Linked DNA regions of Homo sapiens: region 2 is linked to region 1. Evidence: fine-mapped expression QTL. Tissue or cell type: whole blood. Region 1 holds a variant in brackets; the other region holds the start of a gene. All regions are shown on one strand. Distances are between the middles of the regions.

Region 1 (8,104 bases):
TTTGAATACTGAATATTCCTAGTGACTTATGGTGTTGAGCATCTTTTCTGAGGTCTAAGAAATGTGTCAGGTATGGTGACACACGCTTGTGGTCCCAGCTACTCAGGAAGCTGAGGTGGGAGGGTTACTTGAGCCCTGGAGGTTGGTGCTGCATTGAGCCATCATTGCACCACTGCACTCCAGCCTGAGTGACAGAGCTAAAACCTGTCTCAAAAAGATAAATAAGACCTGGTGCAATGGCTCATGCCAGTAATCTAAGCACTTTGGGAGGGCAAGGTGGGTGGATCAAGAGGTCAGCAGATTAAGACCATCCTGGCTAACACGGTGAAACCCCGTCTCTACTAAAAATACAAAAAATTAGCTGGGTATGGTGGTGGGTGCCTGTAATTCCAGCTATTCAGGAGGCTGAGGCAGCAGAATCGCTTGAACCCGGGAGGCAGAGGTTGCAGTAAGCCAAGATCATGCTGTTGCACTCCAGCTTGGGCAACAGAGTGAGACTCCATCTCGAAAAATAAATTTAAAAATAATAATTAACAAATAAATAATTGACTTAATTTTTAGAACAGTTGTAGGTGTACAGAAAAATAGAGCAGAAGGCATATTGAGCTCTAATATCTGCCTCACAACACAGTACACACACTTCCTCTATTATCATCTTGTTAGTGCGGTACATTTGTTATGCTTGATGAGCCAACATTGATATTATTAAGTTCATGGCTTATATTAAGATTCACTCTTTGTGTTCTACCATTTATGGGCTTTGACAGATGCTTAAGCAATATATCCACCATTATAGGGTCACACAGAAAAGTTTCACTGCCCTAAAAATCTTCTGTGTTCCACCTATTCATCCTTCCCTCTGCTGAAGCCTCTGGCAACCACTGAACTTTATATAATGCCATCTGCTTAGTTTTGTCTTTTTTAGTATTCCATATAATTGGAACTCTACACTATGTGGCTTTTTGCATTGGCTTCTTTCACTTAGAAATACATGTTTAAGATTCCTCCATGTCTTGTCATGCCTTGGTAGTACATTTATTTTTATTCCTGAAGAATATTCCATTGTATGAATGTTTCACAATTAGTTTATCCATTTCCTTATTGTACGATATCCTGGTTACTTCCAATCTTTGTTGGTTACGTATAAGCTGCTATAAACATTCATATACAGAATTTGAGTGGATATAAGTTTTCAAGTCATTTGAGCATATACCAAGGAATACAATTGCCAGATCATATGGTAAGCGTATGTTTAGTTTTGAAGGAATTTGCAAAACTGCCTTCCACAGTGGCTTTACAATTTTGCATTCCCAGCAGCAATCAATGAGAGTTCCTGTTGTTCCATATCCTCATCAGCATTTGGTAGTCTCAGTGTTTGGATGTGAGCCAGTCTAATAGATGTGTAATGGTATCTCATCATTGTTTTAATTTGAATTCCCTAGTGACATATGGTGTTGAGCATCTTTTTAGATGCTTATTTTTGCTATCTATATAGCAAAGGGCAGATACAGATGGTGAACTGCAGGGAAAGAGCTTGCTATGATGATAGGAAGCTGCAGGCAGAGATGATCTCACAGTTAACTGGGCATCAACTGTGCCTTCTCCTGTCACATAAAATGTGATCTACCTGAGTTTTGACTGGAAACACAGAATATCTGATTGTTCATAAATATTTCTTACTGAAGCTTGAGGTTTATGTATGTTATGATCAAAAGGTGATATCACCCCAATATATAAGCAGGTTGGAGTACAACAGGGAATGATTGTCAGAGATGTTGAGAGTCTACATTGAATGGATGGTGTCACTGGCTGCCCATATATTTCTCATTATGGACTTTAACTTTTCATTTGCCACATGAAAGGCCACTGAGATAGGCTAAATCACATTTTTCTCTTGGGGATCTCTGTTACTGAGAAATTTTTGCATTCTGGGCTACACTGGGTTCATAATCTGACTATATATATATATATCGTGTGTATGTTTGTTCCTTCCCTAAAATGCTCAGTTCAGCTGCAGTTCTAGAGGCAAATACTACTAGGTTTCCATTTTAGAGAGTTGAAGATCTGAGGTCTGGAGAAGTTAGTGTGTAGAAAGTTATATTTAACAAGTGGCAAGACCATGTGGCTAGGTCAGATAAGCTGCCTTCAGATTTTACTCTTGAACTTCTACTGGATAATGTCTTTTTTTATAGAAAAGAAAAGAGTGAACTTAGATTTTTTTTTCAAAATCATGGACTGTAAGAGTTCTTTCAAGATATGATGAAAAGCAATAATTGTCTCATTTTACATTGCCTATAATTATTGCTCACCAGAAATTGATTATCCATGCAGCAACCTTTTACATTCCTCTCTGCTTTACTATGCATGAGGGGGCTTCACTGTAAATAAGAGGTCCAAGATTCAGAAATATCTTTAACTTGCAATGCTTGGTCACATGTATCCATCTGAAAAATATTTTGCTCATTAGCCATATGGACTCATATGGCAAACTACAGCCAGAGACACAAAATGTGGAAAGAAGAAAGGGCTATCAGAAGTCCCGTGTCTCCTTACATTTTGTATTTCTATTCATATGCATCTAGAATCATAAGGAATTTGAGCAAATGGGAAATGCAAAGTCCTAATCAAAGCATACCCACATTTCAGTTATCTGCATTATTGCACATTTAAATTTATAATGCATACATAGGATACAATTCAATAGGTATAAAAATGTTAAGTAACCTTTTCTCTCATGCACCCCAGTCACTCAGTAGCTCACTTTAGAGTCAACATTTTAATTTTGTTGTGCATACTTTCATAAATTTTCTCTCTCTCTCTCTCTCTCTCTCTCTCTCTCTCTACATATATATATATATACATTCTTTTTTGAGGTGGAGTCTCGGTCTGTCACCCAGGCTGGAGTGCAATGGTGAGATCTCATCTCACTGCAACATCTGCCTCCTATGTTCAAGCAATTCAACTACCTGAGTAGCTAAGATTACAGTGTGTGCCACCACACCCGGCTAATTTTTTGTGTGTGTTTTTAGTGGAGACGGGGTTTCACCGTGTTGGACAGGCTGATCTCAAACTCCTGACCTCGTGATCCACCCACCTCAGCCTCCCAAAGTTTTGGGATTACCAGCATGAACTACCACACCTGGCCATTTTTTTCTCTTTAAAATAAATTTTATTGTGTATATTTAAGGTTCACATATGATGTTATAGAATACATATAGATAGTAAAAATTCATTACTATAGTGAAGCAAATTACCATATCTATCACAGATACGCACATTTTTTGGTGTGGCAAGGGAAGGTAAAATCTTATTTAGCATGAATCCCATATACAGTACAATTTTATTACCTATAGTCCTCATGTTGTATATAGATGTATAGGATCGTTCATCCTACATATCTGCTACTGTGTATCTCTGACCCACATGTCTTTATTTCCTCCCTTCCTCTCTACCTGATAACTACTCTGTTGTTCTTTTTTTTTTTTTTTTTTTAGGCAGAGTCTCACTCTGTTACCTCCCAAAAGTGCTGAGATTATAGGCGTGAGCCACCGCACTTGGCTGCTTTCACCATTTCAGACTGAACTTGGAGAAGAACCTGAGGAAAAACATGACTTTAAAATTTTGATGAATGGAGAAATCTCTTTCCATTCACCTTCCTTTCCTCTATTTCATTCTTATTGTGAAATATGCAAACAAACATATGGATCCATCAGTTATTAAATAAACATCTGTGTGATACCTATCCAGGTGAAGAAATAGAGCACTATCACCACCAAGAAGTCCTCTGTATGCCCCTAAATGATCCTAAAGTCTTCCATCCCTTATTAGTAACAGATATAACAGATAACCACATTACCTGTGGATATCTGCATTTCTCTCCTAGGTTCTCTTTTTATTATGTATTTTTTTCTTTCTTTTCTTTTTCTTTTTTTTTCTTTTTTAGAGATGGAGACTTGCTCTGTCACCCAGGCTGGAGTGTAGTGGCATGATCTTGACTCATTGCAACCTCCAACTCCTGGATTCAAGTGATTCTCATGCCTCAACCTCCCTAATAGCTGGGATTACAGGCATGGGCTATCTGCCATCATGCCTGGCTAATTTTTGTATTTTTAGTAGAGACGGGGTTTTACATGTTGGTCAGGCTGGTCTCGAACTCCTGACCTCAGTGCCTGGCCTTATTATGCATTTTTTAGAAGCCTAAAGTCAAGTCTGGTTTTGCCTGATTTTTCTCTTACATAATTGGAGTAAAGTCTGTATCCTGCTGCCTCTGGCTCCTTTTACCCAATATTAAGTATTTAATATTCACACTTAGCATTGTTTCTGCATTCTATTAAAACAGTACAGCCAGTCACGATGGCTCATGTCTATAATCCCAGCACTTTGGGAGGCTGAGGCAGGCAGATCACTTGAGTTCAGGAGTTCCAGACCACCCTAGCCAACATGGTGAAACCCCATCTCTACTAAAACTACAAAAAGTAGGCCATGCAGTGGCTAATGCCTGTCATCTCAGCACTTTGAGAGGCCGAGGCAGGCAGATCGTGAGGTCAGGAGATCGAGACCATCCTGGTGAACACGGTGAAACCAAATCTCTACTAAAAATACAAAAAATTAGCTGGGCGTGGTGGCATGTGCCTGTAGTCCCAGCTACTCGGGAGGCTGAGGCTGAAGAATCACTCTGGGAGGTGGAGGTTGCAGTGAGCCGAGTTTGCACCACTGCACTCCAGCCTGGTC[G/A]ACAGAACTAGACTCTGTTAAAAAAAAAAAAAAAAAAAAAGGCCAGGCATGGTGGTGGGTGCCTGTAATCCCAATTACTCGGGAGGCTGAGGCAGGAGAATCAGTTGAACTTGGGAGGTGGTGGAGGTTGCAGTGAGCCAAGATTGCACCCTGTACTCCAACCTGGACAACAGAGTGAGACTCAGTCTCAAAAAAAAAAAAAAAAAAAGGCCGGGCGTGGTGGCTCCCACCTGTAATCCCAGCACTTTGGGAGGTGGAGACAGGTGGATTACCTCAGGTAGGGAGTTTGAGACCAGCCTTACCAACAAGGTGAAACCCTGTCTCTACCAATAATACAAAAATTTGCTGGGAGTGGCAGCACCCATCAGTAAGACAAGCTACTCGGGAGGCTGAGACAGGAGAATTACTTGAACCTGGGAGGCAGAGATTGCAGTGAGCCGAGATCGCACCCTGCACTCCAACCTGGGGGCCTGAGCAAGACCCCATCTCAAAAATAAAAATAAAAATAAAAATACAGTACACCAGTGTGTATCCCTTCATTGTTGGTAGACATGTGGGTTGTGTTCATTTTTGTCAGTTACAAATGATGCTGTTGTGAACATTTGTGTATTTATATTTGGTTACCATTGGTGTGTATAGTGTGTATAGTGAACAGTATAAAACAAGAGGTGAAACCATAGGTTACAGCGTAAACATATCTTCCATTTTATTAGCTATTATTGGTTTCATCCCAATGTTAACACACCAACTGACAGTCTTACAATGTCTGATAATTCCCAAATCTTCGCATTCTTCTTGATACTTAATTTTGTCAAAATTTTAATTTGAGTTTTTGGTGGGTATGTGGCAATGATTGTGATATTAATTTACTGGGCCTTTTCTTCTCTGTAACTAGCCCTGTCAAGATATATGTGTAGTGTGGGAGGGGTAGGAGCCCCTAGAGGTAGCATGGGCTCTGGAATCCTTAATCATTCTATGTGAAAAAGTTGGTGGGGCAGTGATTTTTTTTTTTTTTTTTTTTTTTTTTGAGACAGAGTTTTGCTCTTGTTGCCCAGGCTGCAGTGCAATGGCGCAATCGCGGCTCATTGCAACCTCCACCTCCCAGGTTCAAGTGATTCTCCTGCCTCAGCCTCCCAAGTAGCTGGGATTAAAGGTATGTGCCACCACAACAAGCTACTTTTTTGTATTTAGTAGAGATGGGGTTTCACCATGTTTGTCAGGTTGGTCTTGAACTCCTGACGTCAAGTGATCCACCCGCCTCAGCCTCCCAAAGTGCTCAGATTACAGGCATGCACCACTGCCCCTGGCCTGTTTTCATTTTATTAATTGGCTAATTCATTCAGACACATAATTATCAAGTCAAATCTCACTCTTTCCTTAGCATTTATCTTCAGTTTAGCTTAGAAAATCTATTCCTATTTTAAAATATATACAATTATTTGAGTGTGGTGGCACATGCCTATAATCCCAGCTACTTGGGAGGCTGAGGCAGGAGTATCACTTGAACCTGGGAAACTGAGGTTGCAGTCAGTCAAAATCGCCCCACTACACTCCAGCCTGGATGACAGAGTGAGACTCCATCTCAAAAAAACAAAACAAAACACAACGAGAAGGTTTTCTCCAGATCATTTTTACATTTAATTATTCAGTCTGTTTTGACTATACCTTAATGTAAAGAATTCAGTAAATATAACTTCAATCCTACACACTATTAGTCAATGTACGTAACACGATTTATTGAATAAACCAGTCCATTCCCAACATCATTCTACTAAAAATACAAAAAACATTAGCCAGGCAGGTGGTGGGCACCTGTAGTCCCAGCTACTCGGTATGCTGAGGCAGGAGAATGGTGTGAACCCAGGAGGTGGATCTTGCAGTGAGCCTAGATCACACCACTGCACTCCAGCCTGGGCAACAGAGCAAGACTCCATCTCAAAAAAAAAAAAAAGGAATTTATTTCCCAACGTAAATTAATAGAGCCATTAAGGAAAATAACATGGAGATTCATCAGAAATTAAAAATAGAATTACTGTATGTTCCAGCAATCCCACCTATGTGTGTATAGCTAAAGGAATTGAAATCAGCATACTGAAGAGATAACTGCACTACCATATTCACTGCAGCATTATCCATAATAGCTAAGATATGAAAGCAACCTTGGAGGCCAGCATAGGATGAAAGGATAAAGAAAATGTGATATATATATATATATATATATATATATATATATATATATACACACACATACACACATACATACACACACACACATAAAGGAATACTATGCACTCTTCATTTTATTTTATTTTATTTTGAGACATAGTTTCGCTCTTGTTGCCCAGGGTGGAGTGCAATGGAGTGATCATGGCTTACTGCAACCTCCACCTCCCGGGTTCAAGCGATTCTCCTACCTCATCCTCCCTAGCAGCTGGGATTACAGGCATGCACCACGTAGCCTGGCTAATTTTCTACTTTTAGTAGAGACGGGGTTTCTCCATGTTGGTCAGGCTGGTCTAGAACTCCCGACCTCAGGTGATCCACCTGCCTCAGCCTCCCAAAGTGCTAGGATTACAGGCATGAGCCACCATGCCCGATCTTACTATTTACTCTTTTTTTTTTCCTTTGAGATGGAGTTTCCGTCTTTTTGCCCAGGCTGCAGTGCAATGGTGTGATCTCAGCTCACTGCAACCTCCGCCTCCTGGGTTCAAACAATTCTCCTGTCTCAGCCTCCCAAGTAGATGGGATTACAGGTGCCCACCACCACGCCCAACTAATTTTTGTATTTTTAGTAAAGAGGGGGTTTCACAATGTTGCTCAGGCTTGTCTCGAACTTCTGAGCTTGAGTGATCCACCAGTCTCAGCCTCCGAAAGTGCTGGAATTACAGGCATGAGCCACAGCACCCAGCCAAAAACACAGATTAGTGTATTAATAGTCTGAAGTACTGTAAAATACTGCTGAGAGTACAGATCACTAATATCATCATCACAGAGCACAAAACAAGTTCTGGTATTATTAAGAAAATCATAGCTCTGACTAAAACATACATGGAAAACACATTCTATTAGAAATTAAATTATACTAATACTATTGACAATCACTTTTATAGCTGTCACTGTAAACTCAAAGACAAGAAATAACTTCATCACCAGAAAACATAAAACAAGTACTTAGCCTTACTCCTGAGAAGGCTGTAGTTGCCTTTTACTGAACGACACCTCAGTTCTTGGGATAAAGTTTGAAACAGCAACTGGAAGGACAGCTTTAACTTTAAAATGGTTTTATTTTTAGAGTTGTCATGTTATAAAAGCTATTCTCACATAGCTAAGCTGTTGGAAAGAGACCAGGTTTTGTGAAGGTTTTTCATCAGGT
Region 2 (8,104 bases), 900 kb after region 1:
GGTGATCTTTCTTTGTAGCTGATGCAGAGTAGAGAAAGAACTCAGTGAACTGGTGACGAAGCCAATTCCAGACTCCCAGCATCTGGGTCCTGTACTTGATCTGAGCTCTGCCATGCTCTTCTAAATTCTGTGTTTTGGTTTTACTGTGCATTTCAGCTATTTGAACAGTGTCTGTCTCTCCCCAATTTGAACTGTGACCTGCTTGCTTGCAGGGACCAAAACTGGACCGTCCTTGTCCAACTGAGAGCCCTCAGCTCTTGGTGGTGCACATGGGAGAAGCTCACAGGTTTCTTCTGAGTGTCATTGGAAAGAGGTGTGTGTGTGTGGGGTCACAGAGACAAATGAAGAGAACAGGAAGAGGGAGAGATGGAGGAGAGAAGAGGAAGGGAGGGTTTTACCAGCTCTTTGGAGACCACTGAGTGCACAGGGAGTGGTTGGGGATCCGTTATCAGCCAGGACTGTTTCTTGAGCATCTGAGCACTGCGACTCTGGAGTAATGGGCATGGCAGGAGCTATGAAGGCAAATGGCGAAGGCCGTGTTGGTGGGCTCTGTCCCTAAAGCTGTTAAATTAAGATGCTCTGGACGCTATGGCTCTGCTACCTACTAGCTGGTGGCCTCGGGTGAGCTTCTGTCCTCCTGCTTATTTTCACACATGTACAGCAAGGGCAAGAGCATTCACTGCTGCAGGTTGTAGGGTCAGTAGTCACAGCTGTGTTGGCATTTCTGGCCTAAACATTAGTACCGAGACAGAAGCGAATCCCGGATTCCCAAGAACCCTGCCCTCTAAGCACTTCGTGTGTCTGCAGCCCCTGCCTGACAGCATCCAGCGTTCCAAGTGAGCTCTCCTGAAGTTGAGGCCAGCGGCTTCTTAGGGAGAAGATGTGACCAGCACTGCCCAGATAGCCTGCTGCCCTGTCCAAACCTCTGAGGGTCCTTCGGGATGCAGGGCCAAGAGTGGGTGCTCCTTGTGCTTGTTCAATCTTGTGCTTGTTCTGCAAGAGTTGATGACTGGCTGCCAGGAGGGAGGCAGTGGGGACGACCTTGGCCTGGGCTGTGACACTCAGAAGGAAGGTCTCAAGGCCACCTCTAGGTAACTCGGGCAGCAAGAAGTGCAGTTCTGCACCACCTGGTTGGTTCTGACATGTTTGGTTCTGAAATGATCACTTCTTCTTATCCAACCAGAAGGAACGAGGTAGCATTTATTTTAAAACAGAGTTAGTTCTACCTACTTTTCTCATTGCAACTGTAGAAGACCTTAGAAACGAAGGTAGTAGGAAGAAGGAGCCATTGCCGTGCACTCTCCATGGGGTGGCTGTTGGTGCCAGGCCCAGTCACAAGCAGCATAGCTGGTCTCTTCTCTCACAGGGCTCCCTCCTGGTAGGAGGACTAGGAAGATAAACACAGAGCTAATAAGTAACAGCCATGGAGAAAAGTCAAGTCAGGGGTTGAGACTAGGGAATGAGGGCGGAGGTATAACTTTATGTAGGTGACAGGGAAGAAAGGGCTCTTGGATGAAGGGATGTTTGAAGACACCTGAAGGAGGTGAGGGGGAGTCTCTGTGGACAACTGGGTGGAGCATTCCAGGCAGAAGGGACATCGTGTGGCAGTCCTGAGGTGGGAGCCTGCTGGGTGATGGGAAGGACAGGAGGAGGCTGATGTGCTGGAGCCCCAATGAGTGAGAGCAGAGGAAGAGGGTACACTGGATCAGGGAGGGCAACGCTTCTCTAACGTGAATGTGCATGCAGCTCCCCTGGGGCTTAAGATGCAGATTCTGAGGCAGCAGGTCTGAGATGGAGCCTGGCATTCTGCATTTCTACAAAGTATCCAAGTGATGCTGCTGGCCCATGGACCACACGTTAAGTAGTGAGGCTATGGCCTGTGGGCCAGGGAATGATGTGGTCTTTGTTTTGAGGAGACTGGGGAGCCTTTGGATTGTTCCAAGCTCCAGAGCAAGTTCCTCTGACTCTTGTTTTAAAGGAATTGCACTGGCTGCTGGTTAGGCTGTCAGGGGCAAGGGTGAAAGCAATTTGAAGCCTACTGAATAATCCTAAAAGAGATAGGTATGGTTAGGATGGTAGCAGGAGGGGATGGTGATGGGGGAAGAGGTTAGTGCTGCAGGTGTTCTGAAGGTGAGTCACAGGATTTGCTGACAGGCTGCATGTGGAGTGTGAGGGGGAGGAATCTAGGATGACAAGGGTATGAGCCCAAACAACAGGAAAATGCCATTTCCATTCACTGACATGGAAGATCCGTGTTGTGGGGAAGAATCCCAGGACTTGGTATGTTTCAGATGTGAATGAGACATTTGAATACAGGACTGAGATGTGGAGGAAAGGTCCAGGCGGGAGGTGTCAATATGAAAGTGAGAGGCTAGAGAGCTGGCTGCTGTTTCCTAGGGGGCAGGGGAGAAAGGGGGATTTGAGGGCTGAGCTCCTGGGCACTTCAACACTTGGAAGGCAGAGAGAAGAAAGGCACCCAGTACAGGGCACTGAGAGGCAATAGTCAGTGAGTGAAAGAACCATGCATTTTTCAGCCTCAGTTGTTGTATCAGTTACCACTGCTGAGTTACAAACCATCCCAAAATTTAGTGGCTTAAATTTATTCCTTCTACAATTCTGTAAGTGGACTGGGAGGTTCCTTTGCATCCCAGGTGTTATCTGGGGTGACTCATGAGGCTGCCTTGGCTGGGACAGGAGCCTCCACATTGGCGTCATTCTTGTCTGGGAGTTGGTCCTGGCTGTGGATGGGACAGCTTCATCCTCGCCCTGGGTCCCTTCCTCTGGAAGGCCAGCCCCGCTTCCTCACAGCTCGCAGCTGGGTTCCATGGGAGGATAAGCTGGGGCTACGGGGTCTCTCAGGACCTCCACATGGAACTGTCACAGCATCCCTCCCACCAGGCTGTACTGGCCAAAGCAATCCAGCCAGCCAGGGTCCTCCTCTGGACAGAGCAGCACACCATCATGTGCAGGCGGTGCAGGCGTGGGAAGGAAGAGTTGGTGGCCGTCTTTGGGACCCCCTGCCACAGTTAGGAGCTTTCTCAGTTTACAATTTTACTACTCACTGACCTCTGCCTCTCAGTGCCCTGTACTGGGTGTCTTTAATATTCTATTCAAATGAACTTAGGCCAACGAGCTCCCCACTGGGGGCACTGGGTGTTAGTCTTGCTCTTCCCTTAGCCAGCTGCATGCTCTTTAGTAAGTCCTTTTATTTATTTGGGCTCAGTTTCCTCATTTTTTCCACCTGGAGTTTGACAGTTGGTGGGAATGGACAGCACTAGATAAGTTTCAAATTAAGTAGACTAGTCGGGTGCCGTGGCACACGCTTGTAGTTCCAGATACTCAGGAGGCCGAGTCAGGAGGATCGCTTGAGCTCAGGAGTTCCAGGCTGTAGTGAGCTGTGATGGGAACCATTGCACTCCAGCCTGGGCTACAGGCCCTATCTCTAAAAAAGTATCATAAATAAATAAAGGAGAAAATGCAGGTCAAGCGCTAGCACTGTGCAGGGCATGTGTTATGCTAGTAGATGTCACTGATTCTCCAGCTCTAGGTACACTCCTGTCTTCTCTGGCAGACAGCAGCATTCCCCAGCAGGGGCTGGTGGCTAGCCCACGCAGAGGCTCCTCCAATGGCAGGCTCCTCCCCTCTGCAAGCCCTACAGCTCAAGGGAAAGAAACTTTCCCATCACAGAGAACTCAATAAACCAGTTTTCCAAAATCTCTCTTCCCTGTGTTTACCCGTTTGTTATGAATTTACTTCTTGGGTGTCAGAATATTTAAGAACTCGGTGGAGACCAGTTTTATACGTTTCCTTCTGTCCTTCCTGGCTCCACAGCTGCAAAAACATCATCCCCACTACTGAGCTTACTATGGGGCCACGCAAGGGTAGACGCTTGACAGACATTGTCCAATGTATTCCTTACTGCAGCTGCCCACCCCCGCCGTCCCCGCCCCCCAGGGAGACATTACTTCCGTCTTCCCCAAAAGGAAAACGAGGCACCGAGAAGTTAAGGAACTTGCTCAAGGTCACAGAGTTTGAACTCAGGCTACAGATGCTGCAGCAACTGGAGAAAGTCCTCATCGCCCCATATCACCCACCACCGACCCCCAGCAGGACGTGACCCCCGCCAGGACGGAGGCCGGCAGCTGGGGGGCTGGAGCATGGGACCCAGAACACGGACTCAGGCTTGCGCAGCCTCCTGGCTTCTAGGCGGGAGCCTAGAAAGGCGCCAGCCCCTTTCGCGTGCTGCTGAGACTCCAGGGGTGGGGTTCACTCTCAGGGGCGCACAAAGGCATGAAAACCTTGGCTTCAGCCTCTGAGATGCGGAACTGACCGACCTATTGTCTTGGGACCCACCAGTGCGCTTGGGTGCACCAGCCCCCTTAACGTTGGTGCCGGCTCCCTCCCGGCTCCTCCCCATCCCAGAGGGTCCCCTCGCCCCAGGCCCTGAGCCTGCGTCCTGGGGTCCTGGGCCGCACGTGCCTCTGGCAGCTCGAAGAAGCTGTCGGGGCTTGCAGGAGAGCGTGCAAACTGAAACCAAAACAGGCCGACTCGAGGAACATCCGGGTGGGACCGCAGACTCACCGGAGCGCAGCGCCTGGGCCAGGGCCTGGGACCCTGCTCCGCCCCGCGCTCCCCTGCACCCCTTCCCCACGCTGCTCCCCTCTTCCTAAGCGGCCCCCCCTCTCCCGGGCAGCAGAAGAAGGGGTGGGACCCGGGCGGGCTCCGGGAGGGGGCCCTGGAGGAATGGATGGTGGCGGAAGGGCGGAGCAGGGGCGGGGCCCGCGGAGACTCCACGGGGCGCCCCGGGCGTGAGGCACCCACTCTGGGAGCACAGAGAGCTCAGGTAGCCTGCCTAGATGGCGGCGCGCACCCTGGGCCGCGGCGTCGGGAGGCTGCTGGGCAGCCTGCGAGGGCTCTCGGGGCAGCCCGCGCGGCCGCCGTGCGGGGTGAGCGCGCCGCGCAGGGCGGCCTCGGGACCCTCGGGCAGCGCTCCCGCAGTTGCAGCAGCAGCAGCACAGCCAGGCTCGTATCCCGCGCTGAGTGCACAGGCAGCCCGGGAGCCGGCCGCCTTCTGGGGGCCTCTGGCGCGGGACACTCTCGTGTGGGACACCCCCTACCACACCGTCTGGGACTGCGACTTCAGCACTGGCAAGATCGGCTGGTTCCTGGGAGGCCAGTTAAATGTCTCTGGTGAGTGGGCTTCGGGAGACCCAGGACGCCCCCAACTCTTGGGTCCCGAGGGGACTCGGAGCCTCTCGCCAGCGGCAGCCGTCCCCGGGCAGCGCGGATCGCAGCCCTGCAGGGGCCCCTCCTCCGGTATTCCGTCCGCCCCGCCCGCTCTAAGCAGTGGCTCCACGTCACCCCGTCCCTCATCCCATCGGGCCCCAGATCCACGTGCCCAGCTCGGGCCGGCGCCCGCGGGGACCCGGCGGCCGCTTGGGACGCCCCGCTGCTGGCCTTGCTCGGCGCGGCTCCTCGCTCGGCGGACTCCAGAGTTGCGTTACCGGGTGCATAGCGCCGCTGAGCAAGAGCCGGCGGGGAGCCGCGGGCTACACCCGAGCGCCCCGGAGTCGGGACTTTCCCGTTCCCATACCGGGGTGGAGGGAAAAACAAAGCGGTGGCGGTTGTCACTGCGGGCTGCGGTGCCCGGGGATCAGCCTGGGGACAAGCCCTGCCCACGTAAACAAACAGAGCTGTGGCGGGCGACCTGGGGAGGAGGAAACTCGGCGTGGCAGCTGGAACCAGTTATTTCTTCGCTGCGGGCCTGGGGCCTGGGGCCTGTGGACGGGAAGGAAGTAACGGCGGCCTCCCCGTTCTCGTTCTCGGCCTCAGAGAACTGCACCCCAGCGACCTGGGGCCTGCTTTGGACCCGCGGGGTCTGACGTCGGCCCCAAACAGTTGACTGGTGGTCAGTTGTTTGGAACTTGCTGAGCAGAGGCCCTGCTGCTCTGCTAAGATTTGGGGCTGGGGGTCGTACACAGCACCCTCGCCCCCACCTAAGGCGCTGACTGGGCACCGAGGGGGAGGCCCTGAACTGCAGGCAGGGCTGGCCACGCAGGGTGGGTGCCAAGTGCGAGGTGGGCTCCGGATGCAGGGTGGGCCTGGGTGTGGGGCCTGCGGGGAGGGGCTGGCAGACACGGTGTTGATCAGAGGGATGCAGACCAGAAGGGTGGTCATAACCAGCTTGCTGGATTTGGGAGTGTTTAAGAAAGGACCTGCGGGTCTTTATGGCAGGGTCACCAGGGCCCCATTTTCTCCAACTCCTCCCTCAGTTGTCCTTGTTGTTCTGCCCCCCCAGCCCTCAGTCTCCTCATTGTGAGGATGGGGGCAGTCATGCTCAGAGGTTAGGCTGAGTGCTGCAAGGTGTGCAGCAGACCCAGCGCTTACTGGTGACCCATAAGCAGTAGCGATTTTAGATAACTTCAGAAATAGTCATACAATTATAGATAGTGTCTTGCAGTTATTTTTCAAAGAAATTGGAAGGAACTTTGGACCTCCCCCACTCCCCGAAATTGTATATTACTTTGCTGGTTTAATTAAAATGAGTCACTTACTAGATAAGTGTTTTCTTTAACATTGAGTCAGCAGCAAGTGCCCTTGAACTAGTGGGAAAAAAACCAAACCCTTTGGTTTGCAGAGTTGGGGCAATGTGCCCTTGAAGGAGACTAGAGCAGCTTGCCCAAGGACAGAGGTGGAAAGTGACCTGCTCTGGACTTGTGAGGCCAAGGTCATGGGGAACATTCACAGTTGGCCTGTGCACACTTGCAGCCCCACTCAGATAAGACAGTGGGGCGGACCTCCTGGGGCCAACAGCAAGGACCTTCTGAACCTCGCTCGGTCAGGATCAGGGTGTGGTCAGCAAGCATTCTTCTGTCTCCTTTTCCTTCACTTATTTCTTCTGATAATATGGCCTTTATGGCTACGTTAGCCAGAAATTGAGCTTCAGAAAACTAACTTGAAAAACAGCTTTTCAGCAGCTTTCTCCCCTGGGATGTGCGTGCCCTCCTGTTCATGGGTCAGCAATATCTCTTTCCTTTGCCGGTGTCTGCAAACCATAGAGAAGACAGTATGAAAAAGGGCCAGGCCAGGCCATGACTCTTCTGGGAGCATCTAGAAAGTCGTGGGATGGATGAGAACACTTTGGTCTGATCTGTCAGCTGTGTGTGATAAAGTCAGATGGCTTGTTCCAAAGGAATATCACTCTTGAAGAAAGCTTCACCTCACCCCCTCAAGAATACCAGTGGTTCTCAACGCATGGTCTTCAGACCTGCAGCATCAGCATTACCTGAGAACTTTTGAGAAATACAAATTCTGGAGCCCATCCTGGACATCTGGAATCAGAAACCCTGGGATGGGACCTGACACCTGTGTTTATAACGAGCCCTTCAGATGCTCCAGAGGACACTCGGGCTTGAGAACCACTGGCCTGTACGCCTCAAACCAGGGCAGATGAAGGCACTTCTAAAACAGAATTGGGATTAGTGTCCTGGCCTTGGCCCTATTAAACAAACAGCAAGCAAATGATGGGCTGTGGATGGCGCAACACAGTTTCGTGGCTCCAGGTGTCTTTAGAATCATGACTCGGGTTGATTTCTTGCTTTCCCTGTACTGTACTTTGCATGTTTCCTCATCTGTAAAACAAGGGCCGTATGTAACTGAATTCTGTCCTAGTTACTATTGATGTACATCAAACCACCCCTAAGTTTAGTGACACAAGATAACAACAATTTTATATTCCTCGCAGAGTCTGTGAGTCAGGACTTTGGACAGGGCCCGATGGGGATGACTCATGTCAAAGGGCAAAATTAGGACAAATTTAGTTTAAAGACCTTACTTCACTTTATTCGTGATTATAGAATTGGGAAACACCCCATTCCATAAAACAGAAGGAATGTTTGATGAGCTGAACAGAGGAGGATGGTTTTATAGACAGAAGGGGCTGAAGGATGCAGACATGGAGAACAAAAAGTGGACTGGTTATTTCAAAGCTACTTTTGTTGTAAAGGTGAAAGTGGAAGGAGCTCCCTTATCATGCCAGCTTGTTTGGAGATTTAGCTATCTTTCACTCTCCTTGTTTCTTAGAAGGTCGGATAAACAACTTAGT

Evidence for each region. PIP is the estimated chance that this variant, and not a neighbour inherited with it, causes the effect.
Region 2: it holds the start of ACSS1, and the variant in region 1 is fine-mapped to the expression of ACSS1 in whole blood (TOPMed, PIP 0.98).

Annotation. Positions count from the first base shown.
Region 1 is chr20:25,957,402-25,965,505 of GRCh38, reverse strand. It overlaps LINC01733 (long intergenic non-protein coding RNA 1733), which reads right to left. Exons shown (of 4, transcript NR_110003.1): 3 at 2,310-2,444; 4 at 1-503. Among named protein-coding and RNA genes, the nearest start is that of LINC01733, 5.6 kb to the right of the region's middle. The variant G/A (reference allele first, on the strand shown) is at 4,732.
Region 2 is chr20:25,054,855-25,062,958 of GRCh38, reverse strand. It overlaps ACSS1 (acyl-CoA synthetase short chain family member 1), which reads left to right and starts at 4,820. Exons shown (of 14, transcript NM_032501.4): 1 at 4,820-5,190. The coding sequence starts at 4,857. RefSeq lists enhancers at 4,339-4,944, 5,595-5,724 and silencers at 4,565-5,094, 5,225-5,494.